Homo sapiens: one gene and its partners. The gene in region 5 interacts genetically with the main gene of each other region. Each region holds a gene or a part of one and is shown on either strand. Other genes may lie near its edges. The genes, in order: TUSC2, DIPK1A, ELMO2, SGTA, KEAP1, BPTF and SLC38A10.

The links.
Region 1: changes in KEAP1 (region 5) and TUSC2 together harm fitness more than expected from each alone (negative genetic interaction), as found in Homo sapiens cells (one large-scale study listed by BioGRID).
Region 2: changes in KEAP1 (region 5) and DIPK1A together harm fitness more than expected from each alone (negative genetic interaction), as found in Homo sapiens cells (one large-scale study listed by BioGRID).
Region 3: changes in KEAP1 (region 5) and ELMO2 together harm fitness more than expected from each alone (negative genetic interaction), as found in Homo sapiens cells (one large-scale study listed by BioGRID).
Region 4: changes in KEAP1 (region 5) and SGTA together harm fitness more than expected from each alone (negative genetic interaction), as found in Homo sapiens cells (one large-scale study listed by BioGRID).
Region 6: changes in KEAP1 (region 5) and BPTF together harm fitness more than expected from each alone (negative genetic interaction), as found in Homo sapiens cells (one large-scale study listed by BioGRID).
Region 7: changes in KEAP1 (region 5) and SLC38A10 together harm fitness more than expected from each alone (negative genetic interaction), as found in Homo sapiens cells (one large-scale study listed by BioGRID).

What each region holds. Positions count from the first base shown.
Region 1 is NC_000003.12:50,325,424-50,329,372, reverse strand, and holds the start of TUSC2 (tumor suppressor candidate 2), read left to right. Parts: upstream 1-1,149; 5' UTR 1,150-1,273; coding exon 1,274-1,419; intron 1,420-2,895; coding exon 2,896-3,016; intron 3,017-3,186; coding exon 3,187-3,252; 3' UTR 3,253-3,949. UniProt on the Homo sapiens protein: May function as a tumor suppressor, inhibiting colony formation, causing G1 arrest and ultimately inducing apoptosis in homozygous 3p21.3 120-kb region-deficient cells.
Region 2 is NC_000001.11:92,844,065-92,846,462, reverse strand, and holds part of DIPK1A (divergent protein kinase domain 1A), read left to right. Parts: intron 1-280; exon of another isoform or gene 281-404; intron 405-2,267; coding exon 2,268-2,398.
Region 3 is NC_000020.11:46,368,616-46,372,115, reverse strand, and holds part of ELMO2 (engulfment and cell motility protein 2), read left to right. Parts: intron 1-146; coding exon 147-310; intron 311-424; coding exon 425-537; intron 538-656; coding exon 657-764; intron 765-1,590; coding exon 1,591-1,673; intron 1,674-3,147; coding exon 3,148-3,225; intron 3,226-3,500. UniProt on the Homo sapiens protein: Involved in cytoskeletal rearrangements required for phagocytosis of apoptotic cells and cell motility. Acts in association with DOCK1 and CRK. Was initially proposed to be required in complex with DOCK1 to activate Rac Rho small GTPases.
Region 4 is NC_000019.10:2,759,274-2,762,773, forward strand, and holds part of SGTA (small glutamine-rich tetratricopeptide repeat-containing protein alpha), read right to left. Parts: intron 3,372-3,500; coding exon 3,233-3,371; intron 2,250-3,232; coding exon 2,187-2,249; intron 22-2,186; coding exon 1-21. UniProt on the Homo sapiens protein: Co-chaperone that binds misfolded and hydrophobic patches-containing client proteins in the cytosol. Mediates their targeting to the endoplasmic reticulum but also regulates their sorting to the proteasome when targeting fails.
Region 5 is NC_000019.10:10,500,557-10,504,642, reverse strand, and holds the start of KEAP1 (kelch-like ECH-associated protein 1), read left to right. Parts: upstream 1-1,286; 5' UTR 1,287-1,402; intron 1,403-1,871; exon of another isoform or gene 1,872-1,946; intron 1,947-4,086. UniProt on the Homo sapiens protein: Substrate-specific adapter of a BCR (BTB-CUL3-RBX1) E3 ubiquitin ligase complex that regulates the response to oxidative stress by targeting NFE2L2/NRF2 for ubiquitination.
Region 6 is NC_000017.11:67,832,003-67,835,502, forward strand, and holds part of BPTF (nucleosome-remodeling factor subunit BPTF), read left to right. Parts: intron 1-3,500. UniProt on the Homo sapiens protein: Regulatory subunit of the ATP-dependent NURF-1 and NURF-5 ISWI chromatin remodeling complexes, which form ordered nucleosome arrays on chromatin and facilitate access to DNA during DNA-templated processes such as DNA replication, transcription, and repair.
Region 7 is NC_000017.11:81,250,308-81,253,807, reverse strand, and holds part of SLC38A10 (solute carrier family 38 member 10), read left to right. Parts: intron 1-567; coding exon 568-735; intron 736-1,124; coding exon 1,125-1,613; intron 1,614-2,195; coding exon 2,196-2,315; coding exon of another isoform or gene 2,316-2,593; exon of another isoform or gene 2,594-2,938; intron 2,939-3,500. UniProt on the Homo sapiens protein: Facilitates bidirectional transport of amino acids. May act as a glutamate sensor that regulates glutamate-glutamine cycle and mTOR signaling in the brain. The transport mechanism remains to be elucidated.

The DNA of each region.
Region 1 (3,949 bases), on a different chromosome or scaffold from region 5:
GCCAGGAGTTCGAGGCCAGCCTGGCCAGCATGGCGAAACCCCATCTCTACCAAAAATACAAAAAAAATTTAGCTGGGCGTGGTGGTGGGCGCTTGTAGTCCCAGCTACTCAGAAGGCTGAGGCAGGAGAATCGCTTGAACCCGGCAGGCAGAGGTTGCAGTGAGTGGAGATCACACCACTGCACTCCGATAGAGCAAGACTCCAACTCAAAAAAAAAAAAAACGGCCGGGCGCAGTGGCTCAGGCCTGTAATCCCAGCACTTTGGGAGGCCAAGGCGGGTGGATCACCTGAGGTCCGGAGTTCAAGACTGCCTGACCAACATGGTGAAACCCCGTCTCTACTAGAAATACAAAAAAATTAGCCGGCATGGTGGCAGATGCCTGTAATCCCAAGTACTCGGGAGGCTGAGGCAGGAGAATCGCTTGAACCCTGGAGGCAGAGGCTGCAGTGAGCCGAGATCGTGCCACTGCACATTATCCTGGGCGACAAGAGTGAAACTCCATCTCAAAAAAAAAAAAAAACAAAACCATCCCTTCAACACACACACACCACGCTCTGGGAGAAGGTGTGGCATAACTCCTTCACCAAATACAGAGCTGCCACCGTGGACCAGACACTGCTCGTGATACCGAGGGTATAGCTGTTAACAATTCTTGCTTTCATTAAGCATGGACTCTGCTGGGTTTGAAAACACTGAATTCGAAGTTCTTCAGAACTGAATGTAACTATGTGAATCTGGCCAGTTCCTTAATTTTCTTTCAACTTGGTTAGTTCACATAAGCGTGGCAATCGCAAAAATACAGCTGTGAAAATAGAAGCCAGATGGGCACCCGGCGGTCTGGCCTTAGGCCCTGAAGTGCAGGTTTGAGGATTGGTGCTTGCGAAGTCCTGCTAGGCCTGAACTCAGGTGTTGGGGGACGTCAGAGCCGCCAAATACACCCAAAAGACCGGGAGGACTCACGGCCACCACTTTCCTCGGTGGGAGCTGTCCCAGCTGGTCAGATCGCGCTTGCTGGGACCTGGGATCTCGCAACGCATGCTGGGATGCCCAGCATCTAAGGGCGCCCATTGGTCCCGCCCCCACGACTTGAGCAACAGCCAATCAGAGGTGGCAGCGTGCGGAAGCGGAAGTGAGGTTTCCGTGGAGACAGCCGAGCCTGCGGAAGGCGGCGGCGGCGGCACCTGCGATCAGCGGCTGGGGCAGGTTATGGTAGTGCGGACTGCGGTGTGAGCAGAGCGGCCACGGGGCCCGCCATGCGCCGGCGGCCCTGACATGGGCGCCAGCGGGTCCAAAGCTCGGGGCCTGTGGCCCTTCGCCTCGGCGGCCGGAGGCGGCGGCTCAGAGGCAGCAGGAGCTGAGCAAGCTTTGGTGCGGCCTCGGGGCCGAGCTGTGCCCCCCTTCGTATTCACGCGCCGCGGGTAAGGGCATGGGTTCCACCCTGGCGGGGGGAACAGGCGGGCGGCCAGGCGTCCCGCGCCACGGGGGAACTTCCACCGCTGTACCCCACTACAGCCAAGCCAGGACGACCCCCATATTTTGAGCCTCATTGGAGCTGGGGGTGGAGAAAGCCGGGCAGTGGTCTCCTGGCGGCCTGGCCACTCTGAAAGTCTCCCTAGGGAAGAGTGGGCCTGAGGCTTGTCACTGGTCGGACCTTCCGCACGGTAAAGCTAAGCTAGGGCCTCCATAAGACCTCCATAAGATCTCTTCCTTTCATCCCTTCCGGCTCAGCCTGCATACTGAAGGGTCCTAGCCTCCCTTTCCCCCCCAGTTATTCCAAGGGGATAATAACCCTCTGTTTAGGCTGCTTTTCCTGACAGTAGTGGGGCTGAACCTTTGAGCGTAGTGGCTGGGAAAGCAGGGATAGGCCTCAGTATTGGGGGTGAGGCTGAGGAAAAAAGACCCTCACCCAGTTATGTTCTCCAGATCCAGAGCGCTGACCTACCCACCCAACCCCCAGCCCAGTCTCCCAGAGGCCCGCACAAGAGTACCAGATTGGCTTGGCTCTAGTGGGCTCCTGGAGATGGGCGCTCCCTGTGCTAGAGATTTGGCTGTAGACACCAGGAAGACCCAACAGTGGCAATTCACCAGCCACCTGGGGTGTGGGGTCAGGGGAGACGCAGCCTTCATTCCTTTGTGCTTCTTCCTAGCTTAGGCTTCTGCTATTTCAGTCTTTGACACTGGGCCAGCAGCATCTTCTGGAGTGAGACCAACATGCCCAGGCCACCACCCTGCCCACTCTAGAAGTCCTGGGTGAAGGCAAAGTCCTGATATTAGAATGGCTGCCCTTGCTGAACAAATCAAGGATGAGAACTGGCCTTGGTGGCTGCCTGGATGGTGTGCTCTGGTGTGGGCTCTCTTCTTGGGGGTCTGACATAGTAGCACTGCCCACCCATCACCTCACTTCCCACTTTCTTCTAGTAGACCCCAAACCCCAGGCAAAGGATTCTCCAGGCAGGCCAGGCACCGTGGCTCACGCCTGTAATCCTAACACTTTGGGAGATGAAGACGAGTGGATTGCCTGAGTTCAGGAGTTCGAGACCAGCCAGAGCAACATGGCAAAACCCCGTCTCTACTAAAATACAAAAAATTAGCAGGGTGTGGTGGTGCATGTCTGTAGTCCCAGCTACTTGGGAGGCTGAGGCAGGAGAATTGCTTGAACCCAGGAGGCAGAGGTTGCAGCAAGCTGAGATCGCGCCACTGCACCTCCAGCCTGGGCAACAGAGTGAGATTCTGTCTCGAAAAATTTTTTTTAAAAAAAGGATTCTCCAGGCATATTATCCTCTTTTCTTCCCACTTGGGGTTGGGAAGACCACAGACTTCCCCGTGACCTGTGACATTTGCCATGCCCAGGTGTGGGGCTCCAGCCCAGCCTGTTTCCTTCTCCCTCTACACAGCTCTATGTTCTATGATGAGGATGGGGATCTGGCTCACGAGTTCTATGAGGAGACAATCGTCACCAAGAACGGGCAGAAGCGGGCCAAGCTGAGGCGAGTGCATAAGAATCTGATTCCTCAGGTGAGGGGCTGGGCAGCGGTCACAGAGCCTACACTAAGCGTGTGGAGGTGGACCCAGATGGGATCTGTTGTCATGGTGGGGGCTTTTGCGGGGGGATCTGGGAGGAACAAGGAAGCTTCCTGAAGTAGAGGCCCTGAGCTGACCCTTACTAGCCTCTGTTTCCATGGCAGGGCATCGTGAAGCTGGATCACCCCCGCATCCACGTGGATTTCCCTGTGATCCTCTATGAGGTGTGACCCTGGGAGGTGGCAGACAGAAGCACCCCCTGCCCCGGCAAGAAACTCCCAGGCTCAATCAAGGTGTGGCTTCCATTGAGGAGCCCAGGCTGGGGCCACAACCCTGAATAAACTCTGTTGGCCCATAACCTTCAGCTGTGAGCGGGTCGGTCCCACAGTATTGGTTGGGTGTTGGTTTGTGTGTGGACAAGAGGTGGTTGGTGGGTGGTGAAGGCTAATGGCAGAGTTAGCACCCCACTCTCCCAAGCCACCCCTGCAAGCAGCACAGCAGGGCATATACCAGTCAGGAATGCCCGTTACCTGGTTCCTTGCCTGGTCTGCTTTCTTCCAAGTTTGCCTGGGGCCTAGCCCTGCTAGAGGCTACAGCACTTTACAAGCAAGGTATGCTTTCTTCCAGCCCCTAGGCTGTGGGCACTGTATACAAGTAGGAACTTCCTTTCCTTCACTTCCCTTTTAACCCCTAGTCAGAGCATTTCAGCCGTTTGCTACCTCGATTCCTCCTGTGTTGGACAGAGGCTGGGGGCAGTGCCAGCCTGATTCTTCCGACCTACCTGCCATTTGTTCCCGCCTTCAGATGGATGGACAGTTTGCTGGCTATTGATAGGAGTGGGGACTGGGTGGGGGCTTCTCCCTCTACCCAGGGCTGGGCTGATCCCCCTACTGCAACTAACTGTTGCCCCCCAACCCCGAACCCCCA
Region 2 (2,398 bases), on a different chromosome or scaffold from region 5:
CTATTAGAGGCTGGGAAGGGTACAGAGGAGAGGAGAATAAGGAGAGGTTGGTTAACAGATACAAAATTACCGCTAGATAGGCAGAATAAGTTCTAGTGTTCTATAGCACTATAGGGTAAAGGGATTAATAATTTTTGGTTATTTTCAAAAAACTAAAAGGATTGTGAATGTTCACAACACAATGATAACTGAGACATAAATATGCTAATTACCTTGATTTGATCATTACAAATTGTATGTGTGTATTGAAATATCACTATGTATCCCATGAATTTTTTTTCTGTGTGCTCCCGTTCACAATACAGACAAGGCGCAGGGCCTGGGCTGAGGTGTACATGGGAGTTCACCTCCTCATTCTATACAGTCAGTATAAGAACACAGCCTGGGGTAAGCACCAGGAGGCCTGGGGATTTTTTTTCTTTCTTTCTTTTTTTAAAAGATGGTTGGTTATTTGTTTTGTTTTGTTTTGGCAGGGTCTTGCCCTGGTGCCCAAGCTGGAGTGTGCAGTGGCATGATCTCGGCTCATTGCAGCCTCAGCCTCCTGGGTTTAAGCCATCCTCCTGCCTCAGCCCCCCAAGTAGCTGGGATCACAGGCGCACCACCGCACCTGGCTAATTTTTTTTTTTTTTAGACGGAGTCTCGCTCTGTTGCCCAGGCTGGAGTGCAGTGGCATGGTCTCAGCTCACTGCAACCTTGCCTCCCAGATTCAAGCAGTTCTCCTGCCTCAGCCTCCCGAGTAGCTGGGATTACAGGCACCCGCCACCACACCTAATTTTTGTATTTTTAGTAGAGATGGGATTTCACTATTTTGGCCAGGCTGGTCTCGAACTCCTGACCTCATGGTGATCCACCCGCCTCAGCCTCCCAAAGCGCTGGGATTACAGGCGTGAGCCACCGCATCCAGCATTTTTTTTTTTTTTTCAGCAGAGACGGTTTTTTTTTTTTTTTTTTTTTCTAGCATAGACACGGTTTCACCATGTTGCCCAGGCGGGTCTAGAACTCCTGAGCTCAAGCTATCTGCCCACCTTGGCTTCCCAAAGTGCTGGAATTACTGGCTTGAGCAATTGTGCCCATCAGTATCCCATAAATTTGTAGTTATTACATGTCACTAAAACTAACGGGAAAAAAAGCATAGCAGTTCTTCCTATGCAAAAAAAAAAAAAAAAAAAACGGTACTCTGCAAATTATTTTTTTAATTTAAAGGAATACCAATATAGGCCGGGCGCGGTGGCTCACGCCTGTAATCCCAGCACTTTGGGAAGCCGAGACGGATGGATCACAAGGTCAGGAGATCGAGACCATCCTGGCTAACATGGTGAAACCCCGTCTCTACTAAAAATACAAAAAAAAATTAGCTGGGCGTGGTGGCAGGCGCCTGTAGTCCCAGCTGCTCGGGAGGGTGAGGCAGGAGAATGGCGTGAACCTGGGAGGTGGAGCTTGCAGTGAGCTGAGATCGCGCCACTGCACTCCAGCCTGGGCGAAAGAGCGAGACTCCGTCTCAAAAAAAAAAAAAAAAAAAAAAGAAATACTAATATATAGATTAAATAGAAATAAAACAAAGTTTTAGAAAAAAGTTTTATTTTCATTGCTCTTTTATTTTCACTCAAATTTTTTATTTGGCCATTTTACATGTATTTCAGACTAACGGAAATACTTTTTAATCTTCATTATTGTAATACTACTATTTGAACAAAATAATTATTGTGATAAATACAAAATAGGATAAAATAATTAGGCCAGGCATGCTGGCTCATGCCTGTAATCCGAGCACTTTGGGAGGCTGAGGTAGGAGGATCACCTGAGCCCAGGAGTTTGAGACCAGCCTGGGCAACATAGTGAGATCCCCATCTCTAAAAAAAGGAAAATAATTTTTAGTTGACCCTTATTGTAACTTTGATGTAAGTACATTACAGTACAATTTTTCAAGTCCACATATGAGGCGGTGGTTTTTTAATGTATGAATGAGGAATAATTACATTGTTGGTTAACTATCTAAGGGGCCTGAAGGGGACAGGGGAGTTAGTGGCCATTTCCTAACAAACAGACAAGTATTTTAAAGTGGGTTTTACTGCAGTTACATAAAGCATGGTTCTAGTTCACTTAGGAAGTATCATAAATATTTGGAGATATAATACATTAAGTTCCTGTTTGGGGATTCAGTACCAAGATTATTTCTGGCATGGTTAATAATGCCCGTAAAGAAACTTAGTATGTTGCATGGGAGGTATTTTTCATTCCTTCTGTGTAACTAGCCAAATTCTTGACAGGCAAAATTGGGTGACCAAGGAAACCTCTCTGAACTGGTTAATCTCATCTTGACGGTGGCTGATGGAGACAAAGATGGCCAGGTTTCCTTGGGAGAAGCAAAGTCGGCATGGGCACTTCTTCAACTGAATGA
Region 3 (3,500 bases), on a different chromosome or scaffold from region 5:
AAGGTATACCTTACTCACCCAGCAGATGTCTGTAGTGCCTGCCCTGCTCAAGACCCTGGGGCAGGAAAGAGCCTTGGTGCTCCATAATAGGCCTGTCCATTTCTCAAGAGTAGTGGTGTGAGTTGGCTGGGTTCTTCTCCTCTTAGGTTATGCAAGTCGTCCGAGAGCAAATCACTCGAGCTTTGCCCTCCAAACCCAACTCTTTGGATCAGTTCAAGAGCAAATTGCGTAGCCTGAGTTACTCTGAGATTCTACGACTGCGCCAGTCTGAGAGGATGAGTCAGGATGACTTCCAGTCCCCGCCAATTGTGTAAGTTCCATCTCAGGGGAGGCTGGCGGGGGAGGTGGCTGCCAGCTCTGCTTTCCTTCCAGAGCTCCACTGTCCCCATGACCTTCCGCTCACTCCAGTGTGTGTCCACCCCAGGGAGCTGAGGGAGAAGATCCAGCCCGAGATCCTTGAGCTGATCAAGCAGCAGCGCCTGAACCGGCTCTGTGAGGGCAGCAGCTTCCGAAAGATTGGGAACCGCCGAAGGCAAGGTGAGAGGAGACGGGGCAATCCTTGGTGCCGGGAAGAGCCTGCCTGGATGGCCCCTTTTGTGCCCAGGCCTTTCCCAGTACTGTCGTTGCTCACCTGTTTGGCTTCCCTTGTGTTCCAGAACGGTTCTGGTACTGCCGGTTGGCACTGAACCACAAGGTCCTTCACTATGGTGACTTGGATGACAACCCACAAGGGGAGGTGACATTTGAATCCCTGCAGGAGAAAAGTAGGTTCATTTCTCTGTTGATGTGTCATGGTTGCTGGACTTGTCAGGAGACAGGAGTTCTAGTCCAGCTGTTTGTAGCTGATCATCTGGGCTTGTACCTGTTACCTCTCTGGACCTGTTTCCTTATCTGTCAGCGATTTCCTCTACCTGGCCTACTCGGTGGGGTGGTTTGGAGAAACAATGAGTTCACAGGTGTGAATGTATTGTGTAGACTGTAAAGGGTGGTACATGACTAAGTCGAAAGGCAGTAGTTAAGAGGAGAAGCTGTGAAGCCAGACTGCCCACATTCAAATCCTGGCTTTGCTCCTAATTAACTTGAATTCTAATTAATTGCAAGTTCTCCCCTCTGCCTTGGTTTCTTCTCCTGTAAAGTGGGAATAATAGCCACACTTTCCTCCTAAGAGGATTGCATGAGTAATGTATGCAAAGCACTTAGAAGAGTGGTTGGCAGGTAGTCAGCATAACTGTTAGCAGCTGCCACTGCTGTTGGCGATGATGGCATCATCATCGCCATTATTGTGAAGGAGAGGGGAAGGGAGTCACCAAGGTCCCGTTCCTTGGGGATATAAATCCAAGAGCCCTGAAGTGACCCTCAGTTAGCTTTGACACAGCCTCACTGGGCTGTGGTCTACAGGAGTGACCAAGACGGAGGGAACAGTACAAGGCCATCCTCCCCACCACCCTCACTGAGCTCATACAGCAGCCCTTGGAGTTTGGGGCTGAGGCTTCCTATGCATCTGCCCCAGTACCTCCCTTCCAGCACTGATGTAGGCACTGACCAGCTTGCAGCATGAACTTCCAGAGACTAATTCCCATCATTTATCAGTTCCTGTTGCAGACATTAAGGCCATTGTCACTGGGAAAGATTGTCCCCACATGAAAGAGAAAAGTGCTCTGAAACAGAACAAGGTGAGTAGAGAGGCCAGTTTGAGTAGCTGGCCCAGTGATACTTGGAGAGTGCCATTGGTGGTGGTTTTTTCCAGGTGCATTCTTGGCATCTTCCCCTCTCTATTCCTGAATGTTTTATTAAGAATTTTGAACATACACAAAAATAGATGGAACCTCTGTATACACATCACCCAGACTCAGCAACCATGGCCAGTTCTGCCCATCCACTTGTTTCTCTCCTTTATCGCTTTGAAGAAAGTCCCAAGTATCACACTGTTTCATCTGTAAATATTTAGTGTACATCGTATAGTGTATAACATTGCCACCAGTCCATTAGCACACATAACAGGAAATGAAAGTAGTTATTTCAGATCAAATATTCCACTGATGGTGACTTTCTACCAATTGTCTTATAAATGTCATAATTTCTCTACAGATATATAAATGTTTATATGGATACACACACACACACACACACACACACACACACACACACACACACCCCCATACCCATCTTGTCTAAACCAGAGTCTAAGACTGGTCTTTTAAGTTTCTTAATTCATAAGTTCCCCCGCCCCCCCATCCCCCACCATCTTTTCCTTTGCAGTTTATTAGCTGAAGAACCAGATTGCTTGTTTGGTAGTTTCCTAGCATCTGAATTTTGCTGATTGTTTCCCCGTGGTACAGTTTAACTTGTTCCTCTGTCCCAGATCTGTACATTGGAAGAGGGATCTAGAGGTTTGATCCAGTTCAGGTTTAACTTTTTTCCTGGCCAGTGTCATCAGTGGTATTATGTTCTATCAAGAGGCACATAACGTCTGGTGGTCTCTCCTTTTGTGATAATTAGCAGACTGTTGAAGCTCAGTGCCTCATTCCATCAGTCAACTAAGGTTTGCAAACTCATGATATTTTGATGCAGTCATTGCTTTTCATTTATGAGCTGAACCATGAAACTTGCCCTTATCTACTATTGGTTTCCCAGTGGTACAGTTTATATAGGAAACGAGAATAAATGCTGATTCTTCTTTTATGTACTTACTTTCAAAATAATGAGTTAGTTCCTTGGTATCATGCAACAGTGACCAATTTTGTGTGTGTGTGTGTTTTGTTTTGTTTTTTAATTGTTAAGACATTCCTATGCCAAATACAGCACGATAGAAGTTGTTAGTCATCTTGGTAATATAAAAACTTTTAGGATAACTTACAGTCATGGATCGTGACCTTCCAGGGTTCTGAGTGTTGAAAATGACTTTTTTCCAATCTTAAAAATATCACAACATCTTTGATGTGACTTGGGCAGGGAGTGGGTAAGTTAAGGTTGATTTATGCTGGGCCTCATCTCCAGCCACACTTGTGGCCGCCTAGGAGCATTGATGACATTCATCTGAATCAGCATGTTTGGTGATGATGCCGAGTCACTAGGACTTTGGCCAAGATCTTGATGTGCAGACCCCAGGCTGTTCCATCGCTCTAATTTAAACCCTTTCTCCTTCAGGAGGTGTTGGAATTGGCCTTCTCCATCCTGTATGACCCTGATGAGACCTTAAACTTCATCGCACCTAATAAATATGAGGTGAGCAGTGTGGCGCTGCCTTAGACAACAGAGCTATTTCTGTAACTCTTCAGTTGGTGGCAGGAATGAGCAAAACAGGAAAGTCCCCTGTGGTGGGTGGCTGCAGTGTATATTGAAGCCTAGGAAGGCTTTGAGAAGAAGGTGGCATTTCAATAGGATGGGAATGTCTCAAAGGAGGAGCTGTGGTTGGGGGGGCACCCAGATGAAGCAGCAGGTATCATTACATAATGCTGGACCTGAGGTTCCTCCAGGCGCATTGGGTGGCTGCCAAGGAT
Region 4 (3,500 bases), 7.7 Mb from region 5:
ATTGTTCATTAGGTTCGAAGCCTGAAGAACAGAACAAATTTGTCAGGAAGACAAAGCTCCCAGCGCATCATTCTCTTTCATCAGACACTTTCCATCTTAACCAGCCTTGGTTCTGGACTCCAGCACGCCAACCAACAGTAAGAGCCGGGCATTCGGTCTTTCATACCCTTTTCCCTACATTTTCGCCCCCCCACCCACGAGCTGTGACCTCCACATTGTGACTTAAATCCTGTTTTGGGTTCCTGCTTCAGGAGCGATCTCGCAGCGCCACAGCGCTCTCTCACTGGCTGCTGCGGTTTTGCTGTGTGGAGGCGTTTTGGTTCTTTATTTTAGCTGCTGTCTGCTTTAGCATATTTCATTTAGCATATTTGGTTCCAGTTTTGCTCTATCAATAAATAGCACTGTGGCTGGGCGCGGTGGTTCACGCCTGGAATCCCAGCACTTTAGGAGGCCGAGGCAGGCAGATCGCTTGAGGTCAGGAGTTCGAGACCAGCCTAACCAACATGGTGAAACCCCGTCTCTACTAAAAATATGAAATTAGCCAGGTGTGGTGGTGCATGCCTGTAGTCCCAGCTACTTGGGAAACTGAGGCACAAGAATCGCCTGAACCTGGGAGGGGGAGGTTGCAGTGAGCCGAGATCACACCGCTGCACTCCAGCCTGGGTGACAGAGTGAGACTCTGTCTCAAAAAAGAAGTAAAAATAAATAAATAAATAAATAGCACTATACTGGGCACTTTCTCATGTTAACTTTCCACTTGGGATTATTCCTTTGGACCTGTTGAAAGGAGGTGGCTCAGAGGTGTGGCAAACTCTCTGTGTAAAGGGCCAGTGTGTAAATACTCTCAGCCTTTTCAGACACGGGTGCCTGACGCAACTACTCAGCTCTGCCGCCGTATCATGAAAGCCACCAGTGACACTAGGTGTATGAATGGGCATGGCTGTGTGCCAATAAAACTTTATTGGTCAGGTGTAGTGGCTCACACCTGTAATCCCAGCACTTTGGGGGGCCGAGGCGGGTGGATCACAAGGTCAGGAGTTCGAGACCAGCCTGGCAAACATGGTGAAACCCCATTTCTATTAAAAAATACCAAAATTAGCCAGGCATGGTGGTGGGCACCTGTAATCCCAGCTACTCGGGAGGCTGACGCAGGAGAATCGCTTGAACCTGGGAGGCGGAGGTTGCAGTGAGCTGAGATCACACCACTGCACTCCAACCTGGGCGACAGAGCGAGACTCCATCTCAAAAAAAAAAAAAAAAAAAAAAACCAAAAAAAACTTTATTAACAAAACCCAGCGGCGGGCCTTATTCTGCCAACCCCAGATGTCTGAAGGGAAAAGGCGTCTGTGACATGGCCAAGCTGAGAGGCCCCTTGAAAGACTGGGGCCCAGTCACCCTCCATCCCATGGTGAGGGAGAACATATTCCCCTGGCAGCTTGGCCAGCGGACGAGGGCTACAGTAAGAGGTGTGGCCTCTGCTGAATGGCACGACCCGGGCAGGGCTCCTGGCCCAGCTGGCTCATTTTTCTGACTGACAGTGAGACTGAGGGCTTTTCTCCCCGACAGCCTTAGGCGAGTCCCTGTACCCTGAGGCTGTGGGAGCCTGAAGAGTGGTCCCAGGGCACACAGACCTCCCAGGAAATGAACATGTGTGTGTGGGGGATGGCTCTCCGAGGATCCCAGTCAAGGAACTCCCTGCCAAAGGCCGTCCCTTTGGAAGCATGAGTGCCCGGGCATCGGGAGGTCCACCTGCGCCCGGCGCACCCGGCGCTCTGCTTCCCTTGCCTGAACCTTAGGAGGCAGACGCTGCTGTGTTGTGATCAGTGTCTCTGCACTGCGAGGAGGAGCCCACGCCAGGGTGGGGTGGGGGTGTGACCTCCCTGGGCTCAGCCAGGAGAGCCAGCTTTTGGTGCTCACTACTGATGGGTCTTGCTTGGGACATCAACATTGGGGACACTTTTGATTGTCGAAGCAGAGGGTGGGGGTGCTCCTGACATGGGGCGGGTGAGGCCAGGGGTGCTGCCAGCGCCCTGCGGTGCCCAGGACGACCCCACAGACAAGACCCATCTGGTTCCAGAAGCCAGCAGTGCCAAGGCAAGGAAGCCCTGGCCAGTAGCGGACACAGCAGATGCGGGCCTGGGGGGTGGCGCAGACACCATGGACAGGGAGGAGGGGCGGGCCGTTACCATGCTCATGAAGCCAGGGTTGTTCAGCAGGCCGGCGATGTCGAAGCTGCCCACGCCTCCCGTCTGAGGATGAGAACAGCCCTGGTTAGTGGGGCCTGGACCAGAGGCCACGGTGAATAACCCCCTGGAACTCAGAAACAACGGCCCCCCACGGGGCTCAGACATTCTATCAACCCTGCGGCCAGAGGGTGCTTTGAGGCAGGCAGCACGAAGCACATCGCAACCGCCCGGGGACGGCACAGTCTGTCATCCCGTGTTTATTCCCCGCACAGCGCGACCGCCCGGGGACGGCACAGTCTATCATCCCGTGTTTATTCCCCGCACAGCGCGACCGCCCGGGGACGGCACAGTCTATCATCCCGTGTTTATTCCCCGCACAGCGCGACCGCCCGGGGACGGCACAGTCTATCATCCCGTGTTTATTCCCCGTACAGCGCGACCGCCCGGGGACGGCACAGTCTATCATCCCGTGTTGATTTCCTGTATTCTGCCGCTTTGACACCTTGGGGCCTTGCTGGCCTGGCAGAGCCGCCCCCTCCTGGAGTAGCCAATTCCCAGAGAAAGCAAATGACTCACCCAGAAACGCACCTTTGAAATACAAACAAACTAACCCAGAACCCACACCCTCAGCACCTCCCCCATCACCCCAGGGCCACAGTCCACCTGCCCCACTCACCCCCAGGCCAGGGACCAGGCAACCAGGGGCAGCCCCCAGGCCTGGGTCTAATGAAATGGCTCCAACCAGCCAACCCGAAGCCTCCTCACCCGGCCTCGCCACAAAACCCACATCGAGGGTCCTTTCTGTGCCCCTCCCTCAGCCTCCGCGGGCAGCCCTGCGGCCGGCCTCCTGCTTCCAGGGGTCTGGGGGCATGAACCTTCTCACGACACTCACTTCCACGCCTGTGCATCTCACCACCAACTGAAACAAACCCCGGACCCTCACGACACCCAGGTTAAGCCTAGAGCCACTGGTGCGCCCGAGGACCTGTCCCCCACCCACACAGTCAGCTCGGCGTTCTGGAGCCACTCGCCCCCGCTGCACTCACGGGGCTGGGGGCCTCCCGCAGCTTCAGCTCCGCTATCTTGAGGTTGGACTTGTATGTCTCGTTGTCGGGGTCCAGCTCCAGAGCCTTCTTGTAGTAAGCCACGGCCTCCACGTGCTTGTTGAGGCTGGAGAGCGCCAGGCTGGAGGAGAGCACCGGGGATGGACTGTTCCCATCTGCCCAGCTCCAGGAGGCCCCGCCAAAGCCCTCGTCCCCGGCGGTCCTGGCAACCCCCAAACCACCTCGGATGGTGCCACCCCCTGCCCGCTGT
Region 5 (4,086 bases):
TGTATTTTTAGTAGAGACGGGGTTTTATCATGTTAGCCAGGATGGTCTCGATCTCCCGACCTCGTGATCCGCCTGCCTCGGCCTCCCAAAATGCTGGGATTACAGGTGTGAGTCACCGCGCCCGGCCCCGCATTTAGTCTTAATGATAATCTGGTAGGTAGGTGCTATTATATTATTACTTTTTATAGAGAGGAAACTGAACCATAGAGAACTAAGTAAGCGCCCACGGGCACTGAGCTGGTAAGAGGCAGATCCAGGGTTTGAACCCCCCAAAGACGGGTGCCACACGCCTCTTGATAGGAAGTAAATCAAAAATAAAGACAAGGAAGGCCGGGCGCGGTGGCTCACGCCTGTAATCCCAACACTTTGGGAGGCCGAGGCGGGCGGATCATGAGGTCAGGGGTTTGAGACCATCCTGGCCAACATGGTGAAACCCCATCTGTACTAAAAATACAAAAAATTAGCTGGGTATGATGGCGGGCGCCTGTAATCCCAGCTACTCGGGAGGCTGAGGCAGAATTTTTTGAACCCGGGAGGCGGAGGTTGCAGTGAGCCAAGATCGAGCTACTGCACTCCAGCCCAGGTGACAGTGAGAGACTCTGTCTCAATTAAAAAAAAAAAAAAAAAAAAAAGACAAGGAAAACCTGAGGCCTGGGCACAGCGCCTCACACCTATAATCCCAGAACTTTGGGAGGCCAATGGAGTCAGGATCTCTTAAACCCAGGTGTTCAAGACCAGCCTGGGCAACATTGCGAGACCCCATCTCTACAGAAAAACAAACAAACAAACAAAAACTAAAAATTAGCCGGGTGTGGTGGCGCCTGTCTGTGGTCCCAGCTACTCAGGAGGCTGAGGTGGGAGGATCGCTTGAGGCCAGGAGCTCAAGGCTGCAGTGAGCCGCGATTGCGCCACTGCACTCCAGCCTGGGCGTGCAGATCAGAGCGAGACCTTGTCTCTAAAGGAAAAAAAAAAAGAAAGAAAGAAAGAAAAGAAAAGAAAAGAAAACCTAGCGAGGTAGATAATTTTCCCTAGATCCTGCGGCCGCCGGACCACGAGGCCGGCGCTGTGCGTTGTTAAAAGGAGAATAGCAGATGGTGGCGCGCAGCCCCGCGAGGAGACATCCAGCAACGAAATCGGGAGATGGAAGGGACAGTGAGAAGGGGGGCCTGGCTGTGCGCCCCCGCCCGATGCCCCACTCCTCGCCGACGGGCGCCGGGCACCTGCGGGAAGGGCGGGAGAATCGCCGCTCCTTTCCCGCCGCGCCCTTTCCGCCCTCTCCCCGCCTCCTTTTCGGGCGTCCCGAGGCCGCTCCCCAACCGACAACCAAGACCCCGCAGGCCACGCAGCCCTGGAGCCGAGGCCCCCCGACGGCGGAGGCGCCCGCGGGTCCCCTACAGCCAAGGTAAGGCAGGAATCTCCTGGACTGGGTCGCGGTCCCCCGGCTTCCCGGAAGCGCAGTGCGCGGGTGGCATCACTGTGCCCGGAGCCCCTGCGCGCCCCGGCCATCCCCACCCCGAGGGACCCCCTACGGAGGCGACCTGGGGGCTGAGGTGAGCGCTTGGGCAGCAGCGACGGGGAGGGGTGTCCACCCCACCCCTGGTGCGGGCCGGGGCGCGCAGGCCTGGAACTCGGGGTTCAGACTCCCCGCGACTCGGACCACGCGGCTAAGCGCGCTCAGGGTCGCGTGCCCCCGCCCCGCCGCCATGCTGGGCGCCGTGGTGGCCGCGCAGCTGGGCGACAGCAGGCGTGGGCGGGGGTGGGGAGCGGCCCCTCAGCGGTCCCTACCGCCTGAGGCCAGGGCCCGGGGACTTTTATTGTGACACGGCGGGCGCCCGGCTCTGCTTAGTCATGGTGACCTGCGCGCGCTCCGCGCCTCCCCCACGCGCAGCGATGGAGGCGCCGGGGCTCGGGCGGTGGAGGCGGAGCCGGAGCGCGGCCATGGCGGGGTGAGTGAGGCGGGATGTGCCCGGGCTGCGGGCATCGCGGGCCGCGAGCGCCCCTGCGGCCGTGCCCGGAGACCAGGAAAACGGGCGCCACGGCCCAGGGCGCCTCCGAGTTCCCCGCCAGGACTCGGAGGGCCAGGAGGGCGCGACCTGGGTGGATATTTTTGTTGGACGGCGCAACTCTTGGGGTGGCCCGGGAGCGGCGGAAACCGAGCGAGAGAACCAGGAGGCGCTGCGCAGAAGGAGGCCCGGGGGCTCCGAGGCGTTGAGGGGCTCGATCTGCGTTCTGGGGTTGGCAGCCGAGAGGCCGCGGTGGGGTCACTTCCTCGCCTCACTGGGCCTGGTGGAGGCTCAGGAGGGGCATGCGCAGTCGCCCACTTGCCGCTTTGTAGGGTGGGGGAAGTGCCCGGTGCCCAAGGGGCATTGTTGACCGATTGGCCAAAGACCAAGAGGCAAACCCAGGGCCTTGGCACCAGAGTGGGGGCCGAGTGGCACCCAGGGAGGGTGGAGGAGGCCGCTCTGGCAGGCACGGTGGCAGGGCAGTTAGCCAACCACCCGTTTATTGACCCCTGCGCAGTGCCAGGCCCCAGGCGAGAGGCACAGGAGAGGGTTGGCCCGACGCCGACCTACATAGGTCTCCCTGCCATTTGAGGCGCTGGGGCCGGGGACGAGAGACAGTCGATCAACAGACAAGCAAAGGAGGTCATTTCAGTTCCTGACAAGCGCAGTGATGACAATAAAACAGGGAAGAGGAGACTTTGAGTTGAGTCCCAGAAAGAGGGGAGTGAGAACTTGCAGATCCACTTGTGGGGAGCCACTTGGAGATCCCCCACTCCTTTTGAAACGTAACTCACGTCTGGGCACAGCAGCCTATGCCTGTAATCCCAGCATTTTGGGAGGTCGAGGAGGGGGATCACTTGAGGCCAGGAGGTTGAGACCACCCTGGCCAACATGGTGAAATCCCATCTCTACTAAAAATACAAAAAATTAGCCCATCGTGGTGGCTGGTGCCTGTAATCCCAGCTACTCAGGAGGCCGAAGTATGAGAATATCTTTTTTTTGTTTTATTTGAGATGGAGTCTTGTTCTGTCACCCAGGCTGGAATGCAGTGGTGCGATCTCGGCTCACTGCAAGCTCTGCTTCCTGGGTTCACGCCTTTCTCCCGCCTCAGCCTCCCATGTAGCTGGGACTACAGGCGCCCGCCGCCACACCCGGCTAATTTTTTTGTATTTTTAGTAGAGATGGGGTTTCACCATGTTAGCCAGGATGGTCTCGATCTTCTGACCTTGTGATCCGCCTGCCTCGGCCTCCCAAAGTGCTGGGATTACAGGCGTGAGCCACCACGCCCGGTCGAGAATATCTTGAACTCGGGAGGCAGAGGTTGCAGTGAGCCAAGATCGCACCACTGTACTCCAGCCTGGGCAACAGAGCGAGACTCTGTCTCGAAAAACAAAACACAAAACACATAACTCATCTCCTGGCCCTCCAGGATCCAGGGGTTTCCATGAAACCCTTCCTTAAGTCCTTAGCTCTCACTGCACTCCTTCCCAATTCTCCAGATTGACTGTCTCAGCCTCTGAGCCACTGCACTTACTGTTTCCTCTGCCTGGAAAACTACTCCCCAGCCTCCCACTTTATAATAATTTTCATCCTTGTCTCAGCTCCAACCTCACCTTCTCAAAGAGGCTTGGTCTGCCAGATTTTAAAAAACTGCACCCCGGGTCAGGCATGGTGGCTTACGCCTGTAATCCCAGCACTTCGGGATGCCAAGGCGGGCGGCTCACTTGAGGTCAGGAGTTTGAGACCAGCCTGGCCAACATGGCGAAACCCAGTCTCTGCTAAAAATACAAAAACTAGCCGGGTGTGGTGGCGGACGCCTGTAGTCCCAGCTACTCGGGAGGCTGAGGCAGGAGGATCGCTTGAACCCGGGAGGCGGAGGTTGCAGTGAGCCAAGATCGAGCCATTGCACTCCAGCCTGGGTGACAGAGAGACTCCATCTGAAAAAAAAAAAAAAAAAAGCAAACAAACTGCACCCGATTCTCACGTTGTCACAATGCTGTTGTAATTTTCTTCATGAAGCTGTTTTTCCAGGTCTTGCTTATTTTAGTTTATGATTGCTCCTCCCTGCAGTTGTCAGCTCTGG
Region 6 (3,500 bases), on a different chromosome or scaffold from region 5:
TGCCTCAGCCTCCCGAGTAGGGGACTACAGGCGCCTGCCACCACGCCCGTCTAATTTTTGTATTTTTAGTAGAGACAGGGTTTCACCATATTGGCCAGGCTGGTCTCAAACTCCTGACCTTGTGATCCGCCTGCCTCAGCCTCCCAAAGTGCTGGGATTACAGGGGTGAGCTGCCGTACCCGGCCTCTAATTTTTTTCATGCTTTTGGTTTTTTAAAATGATAAGCCTCAGGAGGCAGCATGTTTCTTAATTTAAAAAAAAAAAACCACTTATACATTAAAATGCACTTTAAAAGATCGAAGGTGACCGTATAGAAATAATTAAAATGCACGTAAATATAATTATAATGTTTTAATTGTTTTGTCTGCTGGTATATATCTAAAATTTTTATGTTTTTCTAGATAGTAAGTTATATTCAACTATTATTTTGTGATTGTCACATTTTAAAAATAGTGACAGTAATAGCTAAATTTATTGGACATCTTCTGAATTGCTGAATGATTTTCAAGCAATATTTATGAAAATTCAGTTTTTAAAAGGTAACAGCTGTATGGAGATATAATTTATATACTGTAAAATGTACCCTTGTAAAGTATATAATTTAGTGGTTTTTTTAGTATATTGACAGAGTTGTGCAACCATTAACACTACCTAATTCCAGCACGTTTTTATACCCCCGCAAAAGAAGCCCGCACCGTCAGCATCACTCCCTGTTCTTCACCTCCCTCCTGCTCATCCCTGGCAGCCACTAATCTACTTTGATTCCCTGTTGATTCGCCTCTTTTTTTTTTTTTTTTTTTTTTGAGGCAGAGTCTCGCTCTGTCACCTGGGCTGGAGTGGAGTGGCGGGATCTCAGCTCACTGCAACCTCCACCTCCCGGGTTTAAGCGATTCTCCTGCCTCAGCCTCCCAAGTAGCTGGGATTACAGGCACCTGCCACTGTGCCTGGCTAATTTTTTGTATTTTTTTTTTTTTTTAGTAGAGACAGGGTTTTACTATGTTGGCCAGGCCGGTCTCGAACTCCTGATCTTGTAATCCACTCGCCTCAGCCTCCCAAAGTGCTGGGATTACAGGCGTGAGCCACTGCGCCCCGCCTGATTTGCCTCTTATGGACATTTCTTATAAAGTGGAATCATATAATATATGTCTTCCATCATTTAGCCTAATGTTTTCAAGCGTTATGCATATCTTAACATGTATCAGTACTATATTTGAATAACACTTCATTGTATGGCTATACAGCCTTTTTTTTTTTTTTATGGAGACAGGGTCTTGCAGTGTTGCCCAGGCTGACCTCAAACTCCTGGACTCAGGCAATCTTCCTGCCTCAGCCTTCCAGCCTCCAGAGTAGCTAGGATTACAGGCACACATCTCTGTGTCCAGAGACCATGTTTTGCTTATCCATTTCTTAAGTTCATGGACATCTGAACTGTTTCCACTTTTTGGCCATTAGGAATAATGCTGCTGAGCACATTCGTGTACATGTTTTTATCTGTACGTATGTTTTCATTTCTCTTGGGTATATAACTAGGATTATTTGCTGTATTATTGCAAATTCAGTTTTAATTTCTTTCTTTTTTTTTTTTTTGAGACAGAGTCTCTTGTCGCCCAGGCTGGAGTGCAGTGGCATGATCTTGGCTCACTGCAACCTCTGCCTTCTGGGTTCAAGTGATTCTCCTGTCTCAGCCTCCTGAGTAGCTGGGACTACAGGTGTGTGCCACCATGCCTGGCTAATTTTTGTATTTTTACTAGAAGAGGGTTTCACCATGTTGGCCTTGCTTGTCTTGAACTTCTGACCTCAAGTGATCCACCCGCCTTGGCCTCCCAAAGTGCTGGGATTACAGGTGTGAGCCACCGTGCCTGGAAGAAAGTAATTCAGGAGTTAGAATGAATCCTTAGTGATAGATTGGTTAGGCTGGGATGTGGTGAGTGGGAGAAAAGGATTCAAGGATGAACTGACTTCTGAATCTCCCTTATTTCTCTTTTCCTTATTCACTCCTTATTTCTTCTCTTCATCTCGAATGGATCTAGTAATACTGATTTCTTTGTAGTTCTCACACACCTAACTCCTAGTCATCCATCCATCACCTTCTCCAGCCTGCCTTCTCTGATCACCATTCCCTTTACCGCCAGGTGGGGCTAAGTTCCTGTGTTTCCCACCCGTATAACCTCCAGGACCATGTGCATTAAGTGTTTTAGTTTCCAAATATTTGGGAATTTTTTAGCTATCCTTCTGTTACTGATTTCTAATTTAATTTCATTTTGTTCAGAGAGTATACTTTGTATGACTTTAATTTTATAAAACATTTTTAGAGGTTTGTTTTGCACCCCAAAATTTTGTCAGTCTAAGTGAATGTTCCATATGTACTTGAAAAGAATTTTGTATTCTGCTCTTGTTGAGTGGAGTATTGCATAAATGTCAATTAGGTCAAGTTTGTTGATAATGTTACTAAGATCTGTCTGACTTTCTGCTTGTTCTGTTGATTACTGAGAGAAGTCTTGAAGTCTGCAGCTATTGTGAAGGATTTGTCTGTTTCTCCTTGAAGTTCTAGCAATCTTCATGTATTTTGAGGCTTTATATTCATGTATTTTGAGGCTCCTTCCTAAAGTCCATAAACCTTTAGGAAGGATTATTTTATCCTCTTAATTATTTAACCCCTTTATCTCTATCTTTATCTGTTAAGACATGGAGCTGAAATGGGCTTTTAATATCTGGCCCTTCTTTAATTACAACCTACTTTGGGCAGGGACAGTCTCATTCAGTCTCTGTAGTGCCTGGTTCAATCTCTTGAATGCAGTAGGCAGCACAAGTAATTGTGGAACTGAATGATGAGTCAAAGAAAGCCTGTGGATTCTTTTCACGCTCTATACTGTCCAGTATGGTAGCCACTAGCCACATGTGGAGAGTTAAATTAATTAAAACTAGGCAGGCCAAGCGTGGTGGCTCATACCTGTAGTCCCAATACTTTGGGAGGCTGAGGTGGGAAGATCACTTAAGGCAGCAGTTGAAGACTAGCCTGAGCAACATAGTAAGACACTGTCTTTACAAAAGAATTAAAATAGTTTGGCAGAGGTTGGCATGCCTGTAGTCCTACCTAATTGGGAGGCTGAGGTGGGAGGATTGCTTGAGCCCAGGAGTTAGAGGCCCTAGTCAGCTATGGACCATGCCACCACACTCCAGCCTGGGTGACAGAGTGAGAACCCATCTCTTAAAAAAAAAATTTAAGTAAAATGAAAAGTTAGTTTCTCCTGTGGCACTAGCTGTTATATGTTCATTTCAAGTGCTCTATAGCCACATGTATTGCACCACACAAATGTAGAGCATTTGGGGCATTTCATATCATTGCAGAAAGTTCTCCTGGACTCATTGTAGTCAGTCTGCCTCTGTTAGACCAGGGGGAATTTACCTAACATCTCTTTTTCTCTAGCCTTTTATTTGCCCTAAATCCTGCACAGCTTGGGTAGCCCCAGCACTCTGGCTGAGTGAAGTCCTCCTTTGTG
Region 7 (3,500 bases), on a different chromosome or scaffold from region 5:
TGATGATGGTGATGGTGGTAGGGATGGAGATGGTGATGATGGTGACGGTGATGATGATGGTGATGGTGGTAGGGATGGAGATGGTGATGATGGTGATGGTGATGGTGATGATGGTGATGTTGGTGGTAGGGATGGAGATGATGGTGATGATGGTGATGTTGATGGTGGTAGGGATGGAGATGATGGTGATGATAGCGGTGATGGTGGTGGTGGTGGTGGAGGTGACGGTGATGACGGTGATGATGGAGGTGATGGTAATGGAGGGGACTGTGGGAGAGTGGGTCGGTGGGCTCGTGCCGCCATCTGGTGGTAATGACTGAGTATTACATGGAGTCTAGTTCTCCCTGCCCCCAGTTAGGTGTAAATCGCATTTTGACATATTTTTGTTGTGAATACACATGAAAAATGACAGTTTTCTGTGCTACTTAGCTGCTAATGATCGAACAGGAAAAAGAAACTGCTTTGACTCTGCCATTTGGCTGGAAAATATGGTAACAGTCCAGGGAGAGCTGCCCCGCTCCTGGAGCTGCTTGGCAGTGCAGTTCCCTAACTGTGCCCTGCTCCCAGCCCAGGATCCGGTTGTGGCCGTGGCTGAGGATGGCCGGGAGAAGCCGAAGCTGCCGAAGGAGAGAGAGGAGCTGGAGCAGGCCCAGATCAAGGGGCCCGTGGATGTGCCTGGACGGGAAGATGGCAAGGAGGCACCGGAGGAGGCACAGCTCGATCGCCCTGGGCAAGGTGCTGGGCACTGGCTGGGGGTGCGGATGGGGAAGGGCGGCCCCGGGTCCTCCTTTGCAGGCTGGACACCCTGCGGGGTGGCTCTCAGGGCTGTGTGTATCTTTTTCCCTTCAGCCCAGCCTAAGTTCTGGTCCTTTTTGTTTTCTCTGTCTTTCAATTCAGATGAATGTCCTGCCCCTCCCAGAGCAACTTGTTTGCAGCTGCCCCTGTTGAACTTTAGCATCAGCTGTGCTTGGCCAGGCAGCAGGGAGGCCGGCAGGGGAGGTGGTATCTGTTGGCCTGTGTCACACTGTTGGGAGCCAGAACCCAGGGAAGAACCCAGTTCTAATTCCCTGGGAAGGGAAGGAGGGGCCTCAGCCTGACCCCATCTGTCCCCCGTGCCCTTGCAGGGATTGCTGTGCCTGTGGGCGAGGCCCACCGCCACGAGCCTCCTGTTCCTCACGACAAGGTGGTGGTAGATGAAGGCCAAGACCGAGAGGTGCCAGAAGAGAACAAACCTCCATCCAGACACGCGGGCGGAAAGGCTCCAGGGGTCCAGGGCCAGATGGCGCCGCCTCTGCCCGACTCAGAAAGAGAGAAACAAGAGCCGGAGCAGGGAGAGGTTGGGAAGAGGCCTGGACAGGCCCAGGCCTTGGAGGAGGCGGGTGATCTTCCTGAAGATCCCCAGAAAGTTCCAGAAGCAGATGGTCAGCCAGCTGTCCAGCCTGCAAAGGAGGACCTGGGGCCAGGAGACAGGGGCCTGCATCCTCGGCCCCAGGCAGTGCTGTCTGAGCAGCAGAACGGCCTGGCGGTGGGTGGAGGGGAAAAGGCCAAGGGGGGACCGCCGCCAGGCAACGCCGCCGGGGACACAGGGCAGCCCGCAGAGGACAGCGACCACGGTGGGTGTCAGCCTGGGCTCGTGTCGGAAGACACTCCCCTCTTGGGCTGGGGAGGCTGGGCAGGGGCAGCAGAATCGATGGTTCCTCCCTCAGTCCCCAGTCTCTCTCCCTGCACCAGATTAGCATGCAAATGGAGCGGGCCCCGGCAGCTGGTGGGGACAGGAAGAGGCTGGTGGCTGACAGCTACTGTAATATCTGTCACACAGTTGTTTGCCAGACCACTAAATGTCAGGTGCCGCGCTGTGCTCGTGTGTCTGGGCGCACACGGGGGGCGGCGCGGGGGGCGCCTGACAGGTAACACGTTGTTAAGTGCCCGTCTAAGAGCTGCTTAGGACAGTTCTTGCATTTTAATTGCGAAGGCAGTTACCATTGGCTCATTGCCACAAGCCTATGAGGTTGTTAAATATTTTTTTATTGCTTCGCTAGTAATCATCAGGTTGAATATAAACTGTGCTGACGGGGGTGTCACTTTAGAAACATCTGCCACTTCCTTTTGTCCCGCCCTTGCCTTCTGTCCCCCAACCCCCCAAACCCTCCCTTGACTTTCCTGCAAAACCTTCTGAGTCTTCACCGTGTGTGCAGGTGGGAAGCCTCCCCTCCCAGCGGAGAAGCCGGCTCCAGGGCCTGGGCTGCCGCCCGAGCCTCGCGAGCAGAGGGACGTGGAGCGAGCGGGTGGAAACCAGGCGGCCAGCCAGCTGGAGGGTAAGGCCTCCGCCCTACAGCCGCCTGCCTCAGGCCCAGGGAGCGGCAGCCCCCTCCCCCAGCCCTGGGGTGATGCCCAGGTCATCCTCGGGAGCCCTGCCAGGCCCCCCTTCTCTTTCCAGCCGCCTGCTGAGCAGACCCCTCGGAGAGCTTTCTGCTCCCTTCCCATCAGCAGCTTGCTTTCTGGGAACCTTTTATCTGCCTTACTCCCCTTTAAACACCTGCGGCATCGTCACATGGCTTGTGATTACCGTTTTATCTCCCTTGCTCCCCTTTAAAACACCTGCGGCATTGTCACTTGGCTTGTGATTACCATTTCGTCTTTAAAGCAGGTTTGTTAACAGTTTTAACACTCGGAGTATTTAAAGCCAGCCAGGTGTGGGCGTGCCTGCACCCAGATGTGGAGGTTTATTTTAAGGCTGTGCCCCAAGGGGACCCAGTTTGGGGGTGGCTGTGCCCGCCCTGGTCCTAGCATAGCCCTGGCCCAGAGCACTGCTCCCACACCCTCGGGCCTCGGAGCTCGGCTGTGTTCATCTACAGGGATCTGTCACCTGTCCCTCCAGGAAAGCTCCTTACGCCTTTGCTCTCCTGAGAATAAAACTTGCTCTGAATCCTCCTCCAAACTTCTCGCCCCTTGGGTCTCAGCTGTTGGCTTTTTGCGACCCCTCCTTGTGGCCTCATGCAGTTGGGTAGCAGCAGCCCCGTCTGTGAGCCTGCTGGGGACAGGCTTCTGTGCCATGTCCTCTCCCAGGCTAGGGGTCCACCCGCCCTCTGAGGGTGTGTGGCTGGGCCCCCGCTCACCAAAAGTCACGTGCATTTGGTGGCAGTGTCCAAGCCTTCTCTCAAGATGGTCAACCCTGCCCCATGCGGGGTCCACGTGTGCCTCAGCATTGAGAGGGTCTGTTCCAGGGATCTGTGTGGGGGTCGCAGGGCACAGCCGCTCCAGCCTCCTGTGCCAAGCCCCTGGGAGCAGGTGTGGGAGCTCCGGGCCAGCCCTGGCACGGGCACCTCCCAGGATGTTCGTAAGACACACGCTTCCTGCCCGCGCATCTTGCCCTGTGGCCTCAGGACAGCCGGTCCGAGGGAGGGCAGGTGCAGCAGCCACGTCCCAGTCGCTGCGGCCTGGCTTCTCCAGGTGCAGCTCGCCCTCCTTGCACCTGCAGCGCGGAAGGCAGAGCCAAAAGG